2 separate regions of the Homo sapiens genome follow, and region 1 is linked to region 2. Evidence: fine-mapped expression QTL. A gene starts in region 2. The other region holds a variant in brackets. All regions are shown on one strand. Distances are from middle to middle. Region 1 holds the start of LOC124901315 (a long non-coding RNA gene). Region 2 holds the start of BTBD9 (BTB domain containing 9).

The links.
Region 1: its variant is fine-mapped to the expression of BTBD9 in lung (TOPMed, PIP above 0.99).

The regions. Positions count from the first base shown.
Region 1 is chr6:38,167,583-38,177,458 of GRCh38, reverse strand. It overlaps BTBD9 (BTB domain containing 9), which reads left to right. Exons shown (of 11, transcript NM_001099272.2): 11 at 2,277-9,008. The coding sequence ends at 2,474. It overlaps LOC124901315 (a long non-coding RNA gene), which reads right to left and starts at 2,281. Exons shown (of 2, transcript XR_007059571.1): 1 at 1,382-2,281; 2 at 1-143. RefSeq lists enhancers at 7,375-8,006, 8,007-8,638, 8,639-9,269. The variant T/C (reference allele first, on the strand shown) is at 5,290.
Region 2 is chr6:38,635,330-38,645,205 of GRCh38, reverse strand. It overlaps BTBD9 (BTB domain containing 9), which reads left to right and starts at 5,277. Exons shown (of 11, transcript NM_001099272.2): 1 at 5,277-5,406. It overlaps LOC105375044 (a long non-coding RNA gene), which reads right to left and starts at 4,811. Exons shown (of 3, transcript XR_926767.4): 1 at 4,722-4,811. RefSeq lists enhancers at 4,935-5,014, 4,815-5,315 and a silencer at 5,415-5,614.

The DNA of each region.
Region 1 (9,876 bases), 470 kb after region 2:
ACGACTAAGCCTTGGTCCTTGAGTCAGATCGGAGCTGACAGATCAGTAGAAGGAGGCAGGCAGCGGGGTGGGCCACGGAGCGGGAGGCACCCTGAAGGCTTGCGGGGCCGGTGGGGGAAGAGCTGGCCTGGAAATTAACAGGACTGTAGAGAACGTTGCAAGAGCAAAAGGAGAGAAAAACCATTCAATACCAGAGGAGTGAGCTTGAGAAAAGGTAATAAGGAGTAGGACAAACGTAAGTCAATTCCAGGATTAGTGTCAGCCTGAGGCTCTGGGGAGCGGCCTCCGGAGATATTGACCGAGCAGGGAGAGCAGGGATTACACAAATAACCAATTAAAGAACATGGTGGGGCCGGATAAAGAGCTCCTGTGTCAGCAGGGGGAAGGAGCAGTAAAACACAGCCTGTCCTGAAAAGTCCTGCGTGTGGGCGTGGGAACAGAATATGGCTCTGGGTCATACTGCAAAAGAGAAGGCGTATTTGCTGGGTTATGAGAAGCTTTAGTGGGGGGGGTGTTGAGGACCGGGACTGCACTCTCAAGGCGTGTCCTGGCCCCGCAGAGCCTGACCTCACCTATCCCTGGGTGTGGAAGAAGGAACACTTATAAGGCAAGTGACCCATGAGTGGCCGACATGCCCAGGGCGGTGTTGTTACTGAAGAGCTGCAAGATTGTGAAGCTGATGAAGGAGTGGATTAATGGTTGTCACCTAGAGGATGATTCTCAGATTCCCCTGGCCTAGCCCAGGGCAGAGCTGATGGCCCAAATAGTGTTCAGATCTCCACATAAGGCCTTCCCCTAGGACCTAGCCCCTCCAGTTGTTGACTGGTAAGCCCTGCAGATGGACCCACAGAAGGAGATTTTATAAAAAAGGAAGGAAGGAAAGAAAGGAAAAGGAGGGAGACATAGGCTAAGTGGGGACAGCTTCAGCCGTGAGGCAGTGAGGGGTCTGCAGGAGGCGAGGACCGTGCCTGAGCCCCTGCCCTATAAGGAGAGAAATCAGCTCCCTCTAAGAGAAAATGGCAGCTCCCAAAACAGAGTGGACACACCAGGAAGACACGGTCTCAGTCTTCATATGAGAAAATGTGAAATTTAAAACAGTGGTCAATAAATGAATTGAAGTGGGAATATGGAAAAAACAGTGATGCAGGGAGGTAAGCGTGGAATTTATATTTTCAATATAATTCTGCAGTTGATACTACATTTGTCTCTGTGAACTTGATTCTACGGTAGAAGGCCGTGTGTATGTATGTGCACACATGCTCGTGCAGTGGCAACGACAGCCCCCACCCCGCCCTTCTCTCCTGCACCCCACAGCTCACACATGCATGTCAGGACCCCCCGAAGCACGTTGTCTACTCTCCAGGTCAGGGCCATGGCTTACCCTTGCTTGCGGGGCGCTGAGCTCGGTGCTGTGCCCTGTCTGCACAGTGCTGGCACGGTGTTGGCACAGAGTTCATGGTGCTTCCAGGCTGACCTGCTGTCAGGTATGCAAACTCTTCTTAGCTCCTAGAGGGTGACTGTCGGCCAGGTGGCTGGCTTCTACACATTGGGGGCGTTTGTTCCAGGCTGGCTGGAGCCACATGAGGTTGAAGTCCACTCCCCAGCACGGCTGCTTAGCAGGGTCTGTGCTCAACCATTGCAGGGCCAGGAGAACTATGCATCAGGAACCAGCTCAGGACAGGACACCATGCCATTGCAGGGCACGCTCACACACATTCACATGCACTCAGACTGGGACCCTGCAGACACACCAATGAACCTCAAGTGCACAGCTTTGGGACGCGGGAGAAAACCAGAATACCCAGAGACAACCCACGCAGATGCCACACAGATGGTGGACGTTATCTGTGGACCTGCTTTCCACAACCTCACAGAATCGAACCACCACCACCACCACCACCAGTCAACTCCTGTTGACTTTTAACCCAACTGCCAAATACAAAAATTAATTAAAAAAGAAAAAAGAGCCCATTAGACAAAGGTTGGCAAAAACGGAGTAATCCAGTGTGAAGATTTTGTGGGAATCCGTGTCATGGTGTCTCTAACTTTTGGGCCACTGGCTCATTTCCTTTCCTCTTGACTGATCAAAATGTGTTTACAGCATGCTAGTTGCCATCAGGTGTCTGCGCCGGGGCAGGCGTGGGCAGTGGGAAGGACCTCCTCTAACTCCCTCGTGGTGGCCCCCAAAGCTGGGCAGGGCAGTATCCCAACTTGCGGCAACTCCAGGGCCGCATGCTGACCCTTCACTCATGGGGTCTTTTCCTTTTCTCTCCCAGGTGTTCCACTGTGTCCACTTTGAGTGTCCAGAGCAGCAGAGCAGCCAGAAGGAGGAAAATAGTGAGGAATCGGGGACAGGGGACACCAGCCTGGCCGGTCAGCAGCTCGACTCCCATGCGCTGCGGGCGCCTAGTGGCAGCTCACTACCCTCCAGCCCAGGCTCCAACTCACGCTCCCCCAACCGGCAGCACCAATAAAGGAGGCAGCGGGCCTGGTGTGACTTGGTGGGCTCGGGCAACGGCAGGAAACGGTCTCCTCCCTGAGCAGGGGTCTCTGTTGACTGCCCCCACCTCTGCCCCTTTCCAGGGAGGAGCCGACCTAGCTGCAAAAGCAGACACCGAACAGGTTTTCTCCCAAGGACAGAAAGGGGCTGCTTTGTTCTTCTCAATTTATCCAAATCAGGCAGGTCTCAAGGGGGAGAAAATGGGTCTTCAATCTTCATCAAGTCCACCATTAACACCCTACCTCTCTAATCTAGCCCAGGCGCAGGGAACAGGAGGAAGTCATAGACAGGCCTGTGTTGGAATACAAAAATGGCACGCAAACACTCAGGCGGAGGAGAAAGCCATTGGGCCTTTGCTACCTGGAGGCACCCTTTAGGAATGGGCCTCCATAGAGTGTTCATTCTGCTGGAATACATTGCCCTGGCAACTAAATGATTTTTTATTTGTTTTAGTTATTCTCCACTCAGTGAATCATAGGTGTTCCGGATCTATTTGAAATGCTCAAACAGCAAATCACTAGTTTTAATCCCTTTTGATGCTATAATTTTCCTTCCTTGGTTTTGAACGGTTCAGCTTGCGGGGACAGAGACCCATCGTGCATGTCTCCTAAATGAGACACGGATGCAGCTCATCCTGGCACTTGGGCCACAGAGGAAGTGCCACAAATGCACACAAGCAAATCAACCTGTGGACACTGGAGTTAATAGTCACTCGTGTGGCTGAGTTACTCACCTGTCATTCCTGACATGGATCCAGCCTTTAAGCTTGGGAGGCTGACAAGGAAATAGTTACTATGCCCGCTGCTAATTCACTGTTCCGAAGTCCATGTAGATAAACATATACCGAGTTCTGGCGTGGCCAAACCTGCCGGGGACTGCCGTGGCTTAGCTGCCCCTCCAGTTGTGTTTATCGAAGCATTGGAGAGGCAGCCACCTGCCCATCAGCGTCAGGAACGCAGAACTGGGACTCCGTGCTTCCCCCACACCACAGTACTCAACTGGGGACTGAAAAATAGCAGTTCCAAGAAGCTTTTCTCCTAATCCTCATCAAAAGGACCTCATTTGACGATGGTGGCTTGATGTGGCTCCGTCTCCTACTTAGTGATTTCCATTCCAGTGCTGCCTGCCCTGGGTAACTGCGCACAACATTGCCTGCCCCTCCGCTGTCCCCAGAGCTCCGGCCTCTGTCGCCATCAGCATCAGCCTGGGAGTCTCCCCAGGACGGCATGGCACGTGAGCAGCACTGCAGTCCTTGGGTCTTCGGCGCCAACCTGCAACCCTGATCAAAGGAGGGTGAGGGCGTGGGAGTTTCCTTTCAGGTGTGTCAAAGACATATCAGCTGCGCTCTAGAAAGAGCCAACGGGTCAGCCGCTTCCTCCTAGTTTAACTTGATTTTGAGTGATTTGTCCATATGGAAATAGTAGGGTAGCATCAAACTGCGTGATTAAATTGGAAGACTGTCTTTCCGTGTGAACACAGGATGGCAGACATCAGAGGGCTACCGGGGCAGGGTGGACACGTTCCTGAGGAGAAGCCAGGGTCTGCAGCTCTCCATCCTCCCCGGTAGCTCCAGCTGCAGGGCTGAGCTGCTTCCTATCCCCTCAGCTCTGATCTCTGCCACTTCCCTGTTGTGTGGGAGAGTGGAACACTCCTGGGATGCCAGGCATTTCATAATGGGAGGAGGCTCCTGTAAGGAACGGTGGGCGCCCGCTCACAGTGGGGGGCCCTCCAGCATGGTTGCTGACTCTGTCAGCCCCCAGCCCCGGGTTGCCAATTAGCCAGAGAGCTCCTGCACACACAGCACTTCCTTCCCCAGTGTGTTTTCTACCCAGATGGGGACAAAGGAGCCAGACAGTCATATCAAGGGCAGAGTTCAAACATTTTGAAATGAGCCATTCACATGCTTCTTTTTAAACATGGGCATCACCTGCCCAGAGGCCCTTGGCCTGAAGCAGCATGCTGCTGACCTTGGGAAGAGAGGGTGGGCTGGTGGGGGTGCTGGAGGAGCTGCCCGGCCCTGCATCTGCAACCCTCCAGTCCCCTGCCCACAGAGCACGCAGAGCCCTCCTGTGCTCCGGGAACGAGATAGCAGCTTGGCAGCTCGGCCTCGCATCTGAAAAGGAATACGCTGCAAAGCCTCGGCCCTAGACCCACATCTGCAGCTCCCTGGCCTGTGGCGGTTCTTTCCTTCGGGGCATGCCCTTCCAGATCTCTGTCCCTCCTGTCTTCTAGCACTTTAAAGATGCCCCTTATCATCAGATAAAGAGAAGTATGGGGACGATGGGGTGGCACTAACAGTAGATGTCATTGGTGAGGACTGATGGCAAAGTCTCATTCCCTCACAGCCGCGCTGCCAGCTCGCCTCCCCCTCGCTTTGCTGGGAGCCTGCCCTGGACTCCAAAAGGACACGGGTTCACCTCCTTTCCCAGGCTGGAGGGGTACTGCCCTTCCCTGAGGGGCCTTCTGACTGGGGCAGGAACTCTTTTCGTGTGTCCAGCTGGGCCTGGAGGCCAAGTCAAGGTGTGTCACACCACACACCAGGGCAAGGACCTCATCTCCAGGGAACAGGGACAAGTGAGTGGCTACCAGAAAGTCCCCGGGCAGCCTGGAGTTCCCCAGAGCCTGGCTGGTCCTACAGAGCACTTCTCCCCTGGGCCACCAGGACCAAAGCGACCTAAACACTTGAAGCTAAAAGCAAGTGCTGATGATGGGATGGGCTGGCACGTGGCTGGGAGGGCTCCTGGGCACCACAGAGCCCTCAGCCCAGCAGAGAGTGGAGGCTCAGTCCG[T/C]GGGGAGCGGGGGTTGTGAAGGAGACATGGCCAAGCCCCTGGTCGGGGAGATAAGCTCCCCCATGCCCAGGCCAGCCCCAGGGGCAACAAGCCAACATGGAGAGAGGTGGCAGGTGAGGCTGACAGGTGGGTGCCTGTGGCCTGGGCCCATGAGGGCAATGGTCCTCAGTAACCAATGGAAAGGACACAAGGGCGCCATGGTCACCACCACCCAGGCAAAGAAATGGGAGGTGGCCAGCACCCCCACCCTTCACTTTTCATTATTATTATTATTATTATTATTATTATTTTTTTTTTTTTTTTTTTTTTTTTTTTTTTTTTTTGAGAGTAGAAAGGCAACTTCATTGGAGCTTTTGGGGAAAAAAGCCTTCAAAGTCACCTTCTGGCAGCTCTGGGGAGGGTCATTTGGGGTGGACTGAGAGTGTAGGGCAGGTAGGGTGTGTGCTGGGCAGCAGCTGTGTCCATGCAGCCAGCACCCAGCAGGGCAGTCTCACAGGAGCCGTTGTGAGCACTTTGGACTTGAAGCAGCTATGAACCACCCCCCGCCCCCACCGTCTCTCCCTCTCACACACACACACACACACACACACACACACACACACACACACACACACCCGTTTTACCATTTTCTCAGTGCTTTTTCTGCTTTCATTCCTTTGATTTTAGTTAGAAGCACAAGCCATGATGGATGTGGGACTCTTCTCAATTGCTCTTTAAATTGTCACTTTTTAAATCCTATTAAATGAAGTGTCGATTCCTGACAAATACATTAAAAGTGTTTTATTCCTAGAAGAGTTGGGAAAAGAAATTATTTTCAGCAAGAGTAGGATGTTTGTTAAACTGATTCCTTGGCAAAAAAGAGAAAAAAAGCTTTTGAATTGTGCAAAAAATTGCCCAGTATTATGCTGTCGCCCCAGTTGTCAAACTGCTGTGCAGATGGCTCCAGCCCAGTCAACTTCACCTTCTTTTTAATTTAGAAGATAACAAAATTGTAATCACTTATCCTTTCCAGAGCCAAGGGGGAAAAGGAAGGTATAATCTACAATAAAAAGCGAGCGTTCTGTGTACTGAGGCCACTTGGTGATAAAGAGATGGAGCGCTCCCCTCACAGACTTCAATTAAGAACCTCCCTTTGGACAGGGAAGAAAGGTGTCAAAGAGGAAAAGAAAATTAAATTTGCTTCCTTCCAGGAGTTTTTCCTCATTAGTGCTTGCTTGTCGGTGTTATTATTTTAATCTTACCTTCTATGTGGTGACCAGCTCCTCCGAGCGATGCCCAGGTCGGGCACGGCCCGGGCAGGGCAGGTCTGCAGCGATGCCGTGGCAGAGGTGGGCATACTCCATTTGTTTTGGCAGCTGCAGCCATTGATTCTGCATATTTTTCCTGACAACAGCCCCGGCAGGAGTTCAGTTAGGAATTTAAAGTGCAGTTCATGGTTCTGTGCCACCGTGGCTTTTATTATTATAATATTAAATTAGAAGTTGTCCTAGTGCCTGGTGTTTGCTCAGAGTTTCCAGAAGAGAGGGAAGGGCAAGGTTTAAATGGCATGCAGGACAACTGGAATGCCCCCATCTCTCTCGCTGACACGGATCCAGTCATACCTGGGGCTGGACGGGATTTGGAGGCCCTGGTCATTTGCAGAGTGAATGGTGAAGGGCGCGGAAAAGGTTTGCTTGGAGGAAAGACCGGTTGCAGAGGCGAGGCGGAGGGAGGAGGGGCGGAGGCAGCAGGTCTTTGTTTGTGGTAGGTCTCTGGCTTCCATCAGGGAGGAGGAAAGAGGCTGTGCCCTTCCTGGCTCTTGGCTGCACCACTGAGGACGCTCCGAGGGACAGCGTGCTCACCCATCCTTTGCACAGTGCTGGCCCCAAGCCCCACGGCCTTCCAGCTAGGATTTTCTGCTGGGCTCATGCAGAGGCAGGGGACAGGTGCATGGAAGAGCCGCCCCACCCGACACACCATTGTTTGAAAATCACTGTTCTCTTTACTCACTTAAAAAAGTGTACAGGGAACACCTGTTCCTGGCATAATGCTCCAACCTCGCGGAAGGGGCCAGGTGCCCTTCATCTGGCTCTGGCTGCTTCCGACCTGGGCCCACGTCATCGTTCACGTCCTCTGTGACCACCACTGGTCACGGTGCTCCCTGGCCCAGCCTCCAACCCACCCAGCACCCTGGCATCTCCCAGGCCAGTCTGCTGCACCCAGCGAGCTTCCAGTCAGAAGCCAGGCTGAACGGCCCTCCTGCCCCATCAGCTTCGTGTCTTCTTTTTTTTAAAGAACTGAAATAGTCCCCAAGAGGCCTCATGGCCTGAAGACTCACAATCATCCACCTGTAATTTATGATAAATGTCTGGGAGCATTTACCATTTGCGTCCGTGAGTATTTATAGCCCTGAATGGGCGGGGGGGAGGGGGGGTGGAGGAGGCCCTGCAGCCAGGAGCTACACACCTGTCCCCACTAGTGTCCCCTGGTTGACAGAGCCCCCTCAGCCTCCCCAAGGCTGTCACTGCGGCTGTGACAGCTGAGGAGTGCCGCCTTTGAAAGCCAGTGGACAGTCGCTCCACTAGGGGGAGAGGCCCTGGCCCTGGCGCAGAGGAGGCGTTGCGAGGCGGGACGGGGGCTGGAGGGGCTGAGCAGCCTTCAGGGCAGGGACTGGGCCCTGGGTCACTGGAGACGTTGATATTAGTCCGTCTGCTGCCAAATTGCTCCCCACCACATGAGCCCCAGGGGTTTATGTCCCAGGAAGGCGAGGGTGCCCATCTGAGCGGAATTGGGAGGGGACGGCACCAGCTCATCTCCCTCAGGGCCTTTGCCTCCTGGTGCTGCCCTGGTGGCTGCTCCTGCACCACAGCCCCTGATGGCTGCTGCTAGTCCTGAGTTGCTGGGTTTACCCCCAGCCCACACTTCCCACCTGGGCCTGAGGGTGCGGCCAGTGCCCTAGTCCTAGCCACTACAGGAGTCATTCTGAGACCTGCTGGAGGCCATGGGGTCTTCCCAGGCCCCTCAATCAGCTGCTTCCAGGGTCAGCAGGGCAGGGTGCTGCCAGTAAGGTCCTCAGGGAGCACAGCCCGGCCGCCCAGGCTGGGGGATACTGGGGCAGAGCTTCCAGGTCTGTGGGGCCTGATCTCTCCCCAAGGCTCTCCAGGCCTTGGTGCGCCCTCCACAGTGACCTTCAGAGAGGCTGCACCCCCTCAGAAGAACAGTGAGAAATCTCTCCATCACACGCTCCCTGGTCCTTATGTCCCTGAGGCCACCCTTCCCCACCCCCCAGTGCCTGGAGAAGCGTGAGACTCTGGAGGGGCGCCAGGAGGCCAGGGGTCCTCAGGGCTAGGCCTGGAGCTCGGCCCAAGAGCTGCTTTTGCGAAGCCTGTCTTGAATCCGGATTCACCAGAGAACAAGAGCCTCCCAGCCTTTGGCGTTTCTGGGCCTGTAAAGATGTGTGTACCTCCCAGGCCACTCTGATGCAAGGGCAGGGACCATGCCAGGCCTGGGTTGGGAATGGCTCTGTGACTCCAGAAGCTCCGTCTAAAACTCCAAAGATGCCCAAAAGGCTGTGCTGCTATGTGGAATGTGTATTATTTGTGAGCACGATGCGGCTTCTTCCTCATTTTGCAGAGCAACCTAAGCGGGCAGATGTACAAACCGTGTGTTCGAAACCCCTGAGTCCATGTGTGTGAAAATGCAGGTTTTCTCTTAGAAATAAAGTGGTGACTTGTGCTGTATTCGAGTCGTCACTCTCTGCAGCAACCCCTCTCGATGCCCAGGGACAAGCAGGGGGCCCAGGCCAGGGTCAGCCCCTCTGCCCCAGTGCCCTCATATGGACACTGCCATCCGGCCCTCTCTGCAGGCCCAGGCACTCAGGGGTGTCCACCCAGGCCCCCGCTCGCTTCCTCTGCCTTGTGGAGGGAGGCAGACAGCCCTGGAGCAAAGCAGGCACAGAGAGGCCGGCTTGCTCCAGGGCGGCGGCGTGGGCAGATCCAGCGGATTTGGGCCAGCACTGTCACCGGCTCTGAGGGCCTTCCCTCAGGGTGGAGGGGCTGTCCAGCTCCCTCCCACCTCCTGTGGCACTCTCTCCACCCCACCCCATGGCCTATTCGATGCCATTTTTGGGGGGTTAGGAAACACCACCTTGAACCCAGTCCCCTTCCCTTGTCATTTCTCCTCCTCTGAGCTTAGCCCCAGCTGCTTTCTTCCTCATGTCTTGCTTCTTCTACCTGATGAGCCCGTGAGTATTTGGTAGCAACTTCCCCCATTTATCTTGCTTCCCAGGGGAGATGCGGGGAAGGGAACCAGTGAGCCAGGAGGCGGCCCCTTGCAGGCGCTGCCGCTCTCCCTGGCCCCAATCTCGAGTCCTGGGTGTGTGAACTCAGTGTTGCAGGCCCTGCCGTCTGGGATCCAGTGCCCTCTCCTGTGACCCCACAACTGGGCCTGAGTCTCCAGCAACTCCGCTGGTGCATGTGGGGCCCAAGGCTCCATGCGCTGAACATGAGGGACCCCGGCCACCTGGAGCCTTGGCCTCCTCCTGAGCTGTTGTCACGTGGAAACCAGGCAGGGGTCTGCTCCTCTCAGTGGAATTTTTTCTTGGAACCT
Region 2 (9,876 bases):
CACCCACTTACAAACGCTGAGCCAACAAATTTACTCAGAGCTTCTTGGCAAAGTGAAAAGTGAAAAACAGGCAGTTATATAATTCACATTGCCTATAAAGAGAAAACACATCAGTTACTCAAGGGTAGCCAAATATTTCATGACTTGTGGCTCAGAGAGAAAATTCTCTTGTGTTCATATGAGGAACACAGAGTGATATCACACACAACAACCTGTCAACTATGCCTTCTAGAATTCCTCAGTATAAGGGAAAGGGTACATAGTATGAAGCCTGGGGGGTTAAAAGCATGGATTCGAATCCTAGCTTTATCACTTATTAATTGTACCTTGAGTAATTACTTAACTTTCTATGCCTTGGCTTCCTGTTTTATAAAATATTGTGAATAATATCACCTACTTCAAAGGGCAGTTATGAGGCTTAAATGAACTAATGCCTACAAAACACTTAAACATAGATAACATAGGTGCAAGTACTATGTATCTGGTACATGGTAAACATCCTTATTATTAAAGTCAACGCTAAAATGAATGTGTGTGCATATGCTAATAGTACAGAGAGAGGGCACTTAAACCAACTAAGGGCCTGAGGGAAGGTTTCCTGGAAAGAGGATGCTTGTGCTGGGTCCAAATCTTGGTCTACTATGACCTTGGCCAAATTATTTAAACTTTGTCCCTATCTGCTAAAACAGATACTTTGTCAGTGATCTATACAATAAGCTAATGTTTACAAAATTAAGTAAGATAATACATGAGGATTAGACAAGCAAATGTATTAAAGCATGGCATTAGTGACAAAAAATATTTCCTCTTGAATCTACTGGAAAAATATAAATTATTCTTGCATTTAACTTTTATTTGTGTCCATTTTAACAACTAACCAATTTTAGTTTAGAAACAGTTATATATAAATATTCATTTAGATCACAACAAAACTACCTAGAAGGAATGTTAGGTGACAACGCTGGTTTAGCACAATTCTCCTGTTCTTTTTTTACCTCCATGGAAATGCCTTAATATATTTGTGTCCATTTTTGAGGCATACTGTGTTTACTTAACAGTGTAGGTAAGTACAACACTCTTGACTTCCATTAGATAGAGCTAACTGCGCCCTTATCTGTATCACTTTATATATCCCTCATTTCACTTCATACAGATTCTGTTATAGTATATTGTATTATACTTACAATATATTTATATCTAGCTTTTAGGGTCTTGCTCTGTTGCCCAGGCTGAAGTGCACTGGCACAGTCATAGCTCACTGTAATCTGGTAATAGCTCACTGTAACCTCAAACTCCTGGGCTCACCCAATCCTCTTGCCTCAGCCTCCCAAGTAGTTAGAACTGCAGGTGCGCACCACCACACCTGGCTAATTTTTAGAAAATTTTTGTAGAGATGGGTGTCTGGCTATATTGCCCAGGCTGGTCTCAAACTCCTGGCCTCAGGTGATCTTCCCATTTTGGCCTTCCAAAGCACTGGGATTACGGGGCATGAGCCACCACAATCAGGTCTATCTTATTATTTTTTATTTTTATTTATTTACTTATTTTAATTTTTTTTTTGAGACAGAGTTTTGCTCTTGTTGCCCAGGCTGGAGTCCAATGGCGAGATCTTGGCTCTACACAACCTCTGCCTCCCGGATTCAAGTGATTCTCCTGTCTCAGCCTCCTGAGTAGCTGGGATGATGGCATATGCCACCATGCCCGGCTAATTTTTGTATTTTCAGTAGAGACGGGTTTTCATCATATTGGTCAGGCTGATCTCAAACTCTTGACCTCAGGTGATCTACCCGCCTCGGCCTCCCAAAGTGCTAGGATTACAGGCATAAGCCACCGCGCCTGGCCTTACTTTTTTTTCTTTTTTTTTTTTTAAAGAACTATGACAGCTAGTTACATACTTAGTATTTCTCTCTCTCTCTCCAAATTGTGAGTTCCTTGAAAACTGTGTTATAGCCATAGTATCTAGGACAGAAGCTGGCATGAAATATACTGATTCTTAGTGGTTGGAAAATGGTCTGAGAAGGATTTGAAGTGTGCTGTTATAAGCAAGTGAGTCTGATATGAAATTGGGGTGATTGAGCCCGGGGGTTGAGGCTGCAGTGAGCCAAGATTGTACCACTGCACTCCACACTGGGCAACAGAGCAAGATGCTGTCTCAAAAATAAAAAATAAAAATAAATAAAAGTATTGAATCAGATATGACAAAAAATAAAAAAATAAAACTGGGGGGATTATCTAGGAATTAATGAGAAAATCATAGACTCAGCTTGATCTCATCCTTTGCCAGATGCGAAAACCAAAGCCTGGAGTAGTTGAGGGATTTGTTCAAAGTTATCTAGCTAGTTAATGGCCAGAATCAAGACTAGAATCTCAAAACTCCCATCAAACTAGTCTAGAGGCCAATCCACTATATTGATCTGCCTTTCAGATCTCAGTGATTTGGTATCTATCTCCACTATCCCACTGAAGTTTGCTATTGTTGGTTACCAATCACTTTTCTGTTGCTAAATCCAGTGAATGCTTTCCAGTTCTTGATATACTTGGCCTTTTTGTGGTCTCTGACTCTGTTGACCCCTCTCCATCTTGCTTGCTTGGCTTCAGAGGCATTAGGCTCACCTAGTTCTCCTTTTCTCTCTCTGGCCATTCTTCCTCAGACTTCTTTTTGGGCTTCTGATCATCTGCACCTCCTTTTAAAGTTAGTGCTCTCCAGGGGCCCTATCCTTGCCTCTCCTTATTATGTCTTCTGTATTTTCTCCCTGATTGATCTCATCCATGCCTCGGGCTTAAATTACCAATTATTAATTTATTTCTTCCAAATCTATTTTAACTCAACCTCTTTCCTCATTCATAGACCTGTACAGTTTGAGTGTTTATTGGACATTTTTCTCTAGATGTGGAGGTTCCATCAGGTCACAGTCATATTGCTATAGTCTCTGAGGGGACCTACTGAATTGTACCCTTCTTTTCCAGGTAATGGAGAAAGCTGCAGGAAACCAACTATTATCTTTATTACTGACTGTATCAGTTTCCTATTGCTGTTGTAACAAGTTAGCACAAACTTGGTACCTTAAAACATACAAGTTTCTTATCTCGCAGTTCTAGAAGTCAGAAGTCCTAAAATCAAGGTGTTGGCAGGGCTGTGTTCTTAGGGTGCTAGAGAAGAATCCATTTCCTTGCCTTCTCCCGCATCTACAATTTGCTTGCGTTTCTTGGGTCCATCTTCAAAGCCAACAGTATAGCATCTTCAAATCTCTGTCTGACCTCTGCTTCCATCATCACATCTCCTTCTCTGACTCTGACCCTCCTGCCTCCAGCCCAGTCAGACAATCCAGGATAATCTCCCTAGATACATCATTTAATCATATCTGCAAAGTCCCTTTTGCCACATAATATAACATATTCATGGGTTCTGAGTATTAGGGTGTGGTCATCCTTTTTTTTTTGGTTGGGGGGGATCATTATTCTGTGTAACACAGCTGACAAAGCTGGTATTAAATATTATCTGTGGACAGACAGCTTCCTAATGCCAAACTCTGGAATTAAATACATATACTCTCTTTGTAGCCCTGGACTAGGCACCCTTGTCCCTACCCACAGGCCCTGCTCCAGAAGAAACGGAAAAGAACACCAGGACAGTTCCCTGAAGATAGTTATCTTTTAAGAGAAAAAGAATGGGATAGATGCCACATGTCCAGTTTCTCCCATTTAAGTTCACCAATCAGGAAGTCACTCCTCTAGGCAAGAGTGAGTTGCAGACAGGTATAAGAGAAACCAGGAGAGTATTACACTAATGGATATCATTCCATATGGAAGAAAGACATTGTGAATGGAGAGTAAATGTTTCCCTAACAAACATATCCATATTTGAACTCATCATCATACTCCACATATCTGGTCATCCTCCTAAGAAATGTCACCATCACTATCTATAATAGTAACTTAGACACTTGTGGATAATCAAGACTCATGTAGCTTGCCATCTTGCTAAATGTTACCACTGTCTACCTCAGCACTCATGCTAGAAACCTGGCCTACTCATTTATCCGCACTCAGTGCTGTGAATTCTACCACCTTAATGGCGCTAACATCTATCCCCTCCTCTATTCCCACTGCCAATGCCTTGTTTAATGTTCTTATCACTTGTCTGGAGTACTGCAATGGCCTAAAAATGGGTCTCCCTGCCCCAAGCCTTGCTTTTCCTGACCATTTTCACTTTCTACTTTTACTCATGAAGCTTCCTTTGCCCGGAATTAAGTCCTTCCCAATTTGTCTCCTCCAACAACTGCAAGGGCGGTCCCCTAGCTTGCTCCAGCGTCGGGGATAACTGACTTTCCTACACCAGCTACAGTCAGACCTGCACCCGGATTTCTAGGACTCTTATCTATGTAGATAGATAAATACATTTTTTTGAGACAGTGTCTTGCTCTCACTGCAGAGGCTGGAGTGCAGCGGCGCGATCACGGTTCACTGCAATCTTGAACTCCCCAGGTTCAAGCGATCCTCCCACCTCAGCCCCCCGAGCATTTGTGACTACAGGCGCGCGCCAACATGCCCATTTAGTTTTTGTCTTTTTTGTAGAGACGGGGTTTCACTATGTTACCCAGGCTGGTGTCGAACTCCTGAGCTCAAGCGATCCGCCCACCTCGGCCTCCCAAAGTGCTGGGATTACAGGCTTGAGCCACCAAGTCAAATGGGCTTTATACTTACAAAGTACCTTTGCATACCTTATTTCATTTTCACCTCACAATTCTCCAGCGTAGGCTGGACCGGTATTATTATGCCCATTTACTGAGAGAGGAAACTGAGAGTCAAGGCTGGGCCAGTCACACCCTGCTGCGAAATTAACGAGCATCACTTAGCAGCCTCGACATTAACCGCGCTCGCGCTCTCATCCCTTTCTGGTCCTACTCCTTGGAGAACCTTCCTGCACCTCCAAGAACTTGCCGATCGGGTCTGCGGCGGTCTGGACGAGGTCACTCCACAGGCGCCCAGGACCTTCTCATCCGTAGTGACGTGCGCCGGTGACGCCATACAGTGACGTGTGGTGACTCGACTTACCCGGAGCCAGGTGCCGGCAGGGCAGCCACACCCTGGGGCCCCCTGTTCTGGAGGGGCAGAGGGTCGGGCCGATGCGAAAAAGCCGCGGAAGCTGCCTTAGGCGACTTTCTGGGCCTGCATCGCCGGACCCAGCAGCCCGCTGTCGATCGGTTGCTAAGTGACGCCAGCGCGCAGTGGCGCGTGCGCGGCCACGGCGGAGTGCGTGAAAGCGGACGCGCGCCGCAGCAGCCGGGGCGGCGGCGAGGACGGCGGCCACGGAAGCGGCCAAGGGGGCGGTGGCGCAGAGAGGGGTGCGGAGCGGGCGGAAGAGGCGTCTGTGTCGCAGCTTGGTCTCAGAGGAGCATCGCTGGGGTGAGTAGCCGGGTCCTTGCAGGGGAGGTGGGGCCTGGCCGCACCTGCGGCGCGGGGACGCGCGCCCCCGCCGTATCCGCGCGCACCGCCCCCCGCCCCTCCGCCGCTTTTTCCGGGGGCGGGGGAGGAGCTGGGACGGGGCCTGACGAGGGTCATTTCTTGGGCCCGGGTGCTCTGGGAGAGCGGTAGCCGTCCCGTTCGCAGTCCACGAAGGTGTAGTGGGAAGTAGACGTTTCGGGGATTCGGGGTGGCTCTACCAGCCTCCCAAAGAGAGGAGTTCGAATCAGGGGCAGCCCAGGTTCCCTAGCAGTCTCGTATCCTGTCTGAGACGACGTTGCCTGGGACTGAGGAGGCGAAACCCGGGACCCCGGGGTGGGGGTTTGGAAAGTTTGGGACTGCTGGGGCCCTCATCTCCCCTGCCCTGGCCAGCCTCTGAGTAGGAGCTGGTTGTTATGGAGAGAGTTGTGAATCAGTGCCTGCGTGCGGCATCAGACACACCCACGACCTTGGGAGGGCGACCTGTCAGTATAGATCCGGGGCAGCCAACCTGTTGCCTAGAGTTTCTAACTTCACATGTATGTGCATGTGTTTCCTTGGCGTTTTAGTACATTGTTGTTACAGATTTTGAGACCAAGGTGCTGATAGGCATCCTCATTTCTTACTTCCTCATAGACTTAGTTATCTTGCTATATTTCCCAGAACCGTGTTGTGCTTTTGTCATTAGTAGATCCAAGGAAGTATGGAAGCATGTTTTGTTTGTTTTTCCTAAAGGCAGTACAGGCTGCTATTTTCTGGGCAGAAAATACGGATTCTGTTCACTGTGTGGGCGGAAAGTGTTGATGATGGGAGAACCCAGCATGTAAAGGTGTAGCTCATCCTCAGCCCTGTGCTGTCTTCTCAGTGCTCTGGACTCTATCATGGGTAGATGTATAGGGGTTGTGGTTACCATACTTGGGAGCGAGGAATATTGGAGACAGGGAAGAAGCCAGTCTTTTCTTTCTGTTGATTAAGGCAATTTGTAGAACCAGTGAAAAGATAGGCTGTACTGAAATCTAATGTTTTGTGTAAGAGGATAGAGGAAAATAAGTTCAAGGTTCTCATTTAGGTCTAAAATTCTATGATTCTGTTTCATAACTGAGAATCTGTAAAGTATGTTACCTCTTGGAACCAGTAATAACCTTGCTTTGTAACACTTATTAGATTACTCGGAATTCAAAGTGTCTTCCTCCCTCCACTGTAATAGCTTTTAGGACAGGAGTCATCTGTGTTTTCCTCCTTGCCCTATGTCTAACACATAGGAAAAATGTGCTTGCCACAGAGTAGGCATGCAATGGATATTTGTTATATAGCACACTATGCTCAAGTGGTGTATCTATGTATAGAAAGCATTGAGTTCAGTCCATCAAGTACTTAATACATGTGCCTCCCTCTGCCCAGTATCATGATAGGTGTGGGAGGAGGATTATGGAGTGAAAAATGACATAGAAGACCTGTCTTTTTTTTCCCTTTGAGAGCAGTAGTCTAGCTAGGAGATGTATAAAATAATTATAAAACCAAGTTAAGTAGCAGGTAACCAGTGCTGTTTGAGGACTATAAATGTGGTAGAAAATCAGAAAAGATAGGATGTGTAGGCTGAGTTAGGGAACTCTTTGAAAGAGGCAAGATTTGACTTGGTCTCTGAAAGAAGTTAAAATTTGTTAGGAAATAAACCAGGAGCTGAGAAAATAATAATGTGAATTTGGTTGTTGGAGGATATACCAAGACGACTTTTATGTCTGGTAACTGGAGCGGAACGTCTCTTATAGGGGAATACTGGAGAGAGATGGCTTAGCAGGTTGGGAAGGCAAAGTGTTAAGGATTAAGGCGGGCTTATCAGCATCCCACTGTTAACAAGATACAGCCTTCTTGTAAGGTGGGATAGAGGTTGTATTAATCAGAGTACAGTCTTTGACAAGAATAAGTGTTATCCTTACTTGAAAGTAAAGGATATTACGCTTGAACCAATATCAGGTTGTTAATATACTTTTGATTTCAATTACTAATTGGAATCGATGCCTCACTAATGTGCATGTATTTTAGGTAGTCAGTGGTGCATGTCTCATTATCTAAAATCTACCTGATGTACTTGGGCCATTGTATTGGAAATTTACTGAAATGATGTACCAATAGTCATCCAGTCACACTCAGTGACATAGTTTTGCTTGGGATTATCTCTCTGAGGTTTGTCTTTACTGCTGATCCTGTAAAATATACAAATGTTAGTTGGGAAAGGAGTCTTTCTGATGAACGATGCTTAAAAATACTGACCAAAGAGATTTCAGAATAATTAAAGACCCTGCTGCTGAATATTGAACCCTTGGTCTTTATTTATAACATCTTCTGTTATGTGAAAATTCTTTTGAGTGGTATGTAAACCTGAAGTTGAATTGCTAACCAAGATGTGTAAAGTTACAACTGCAAATGTTGCATTATTTAACAACTCAGCAGATACTTACTGGGTGCTGGCTATGGCGAGACACTTCGTTGGGTGCTGGGAAGACAAAGAAGTTAAGACACAGTATATGCTCAGCATACTAAGTGTTCATCAGAAGAGATAAACCACTAACCATTATGTGCTGTGACAAATTAATCACTTTTGGAATGAATAATGTGCTGGGGGAGTAGAGTGCTTTGGCTGGAGAAAAAACTGATAGGGAACATGTTGAGAAGAAGGGGATGGAGCTTAGCTCTGAGGGTTAAATAAAATTTCGCCACATGTAGAGGTGGAAGAGAGCATTCCAGGGGCCAGCATAAGCAAAGTTGCTGAATATTAAAATTAAATAGCGCTTTTGGAAATATCTTGAGTTGTTTCTTGTGGGCAAGAGAGGGGAGAGGGCTGAACTCATCTCAAGAACCCATTCCTGAGATAATGAACCCATTCCTGCTATAATGGCATTCATCCATTCATGAGGGCCTAATCACTTCTTATTGCATGGGGGAAGTGATGAGGCAGGAAGCTGTTTTTGGAGCCAAATTATGAGGGGGTCTTCCACTTCATCCTAAAAAGTCTAGACTCCTCCCATCCATTGGCAGTGGAGAGCCATAGAAGGTAGAATAATCAGAAAGTTGACAGTTCGTGTGCAGATTGCATTAGAGTAGAGAGGCAGGGAGACTAGAGTGTAGGTGAGAAATGTTGGACAATGGGAATGGATAGATTTTGGAGACATTTTTAGATGTTAAAATCTCTACATTTATGACCAGCTAGAGGTAAGGGAGAGTGAGAAGTCAAAGATAATATGTCTAGTTTGAGCAACTGTTTGCTTATGATGACATTAAGTTAGAAATCACAGGAAGAGGAACAGGTTTGAAGTGGAGAGAAGAAATAATGGCAGTGTTAATTCTGAGGTTTCTGTGGGGAGTTTAAAAAGAGAGATCCACTAAGTAACTGGAAATGCTACTTCAGAGTTTATGAGATGGTTAGGGACAATTGTAATATAGATGTCCGCTGAGGCTGTGGGAGTAGCAACCTTCTAGGAGGCATGTTAGTATAGTAGTTAACTTAGTGGACTTTGGAGTTAGGAAGATGGCAGGTCAAATCTCTGTTATGCTGTTTATTGGTTGGCTGACCTTTGGCAAGTTATTTAACTTCTCTAAGCCTAGGCTTCTTATCTGAATTAAAGAATTGTGGAGATTATACATGTGCACAGTGATTAACACAAAGGTACTATGTGCACAGTGATTAACACAATGCCTGTCTTATAGATGCTTAATATAATAAATGGCAGCTGTTGCTGTTATTGTTAGTAGTAGTTATAGATGTAGAGATAGTAGGAGAGGCCCCAATGCCAGAAAAATGGAGAGTGAGAACTGGAAAAGATGGTGAATGGAACTTTTGGACGTTTAAATCAGTATTTAAACTTGGATCAGTTCTTGTCTTTGTTTTGTGCTGCTATTTCATATTTTATGTTTCATAATGGCAGCACAAAACAAACTAAGACAAGAACTGATCTAAGTTTAATTTATAAAGAACAGTCTGGTTAATTTATAAAGAACAGAAATTTATTTCCTGATAGTTCTGGAGGCTAGGAAGTCCCAGATCAATGTGCCAGTATCTGGTGAGGGCCTTCTTGCTGTGTCATAACATGGCAGAAGGCATCACATGGGTGAGAGAGAGAGGGAAGGGGGCTGAACTGATCATGTCAACCTATTCCCACTCTACTGGCATTAATTCATTCATGAGAAAAGAGTCTTCATGGCCTAATCACTAAAGATCCCACCACTCACTGCTGTTGCATTGGGGAATCATGTCTCCTCTAACACATGGAGGACACATGCAAACCATAGTAGTTCTAAAATTTGAAAATGCATTGGGTAGACCTGGAGGTGGCCAGGTGTGGTGGCTCATGCCTGTAACTCCAGCACTTTGGGAGGCTGAGGTGGGTGGATCACTTGAGGTCAGGAGTTTGAGACTAGCCTGGCCAACATGGTGAA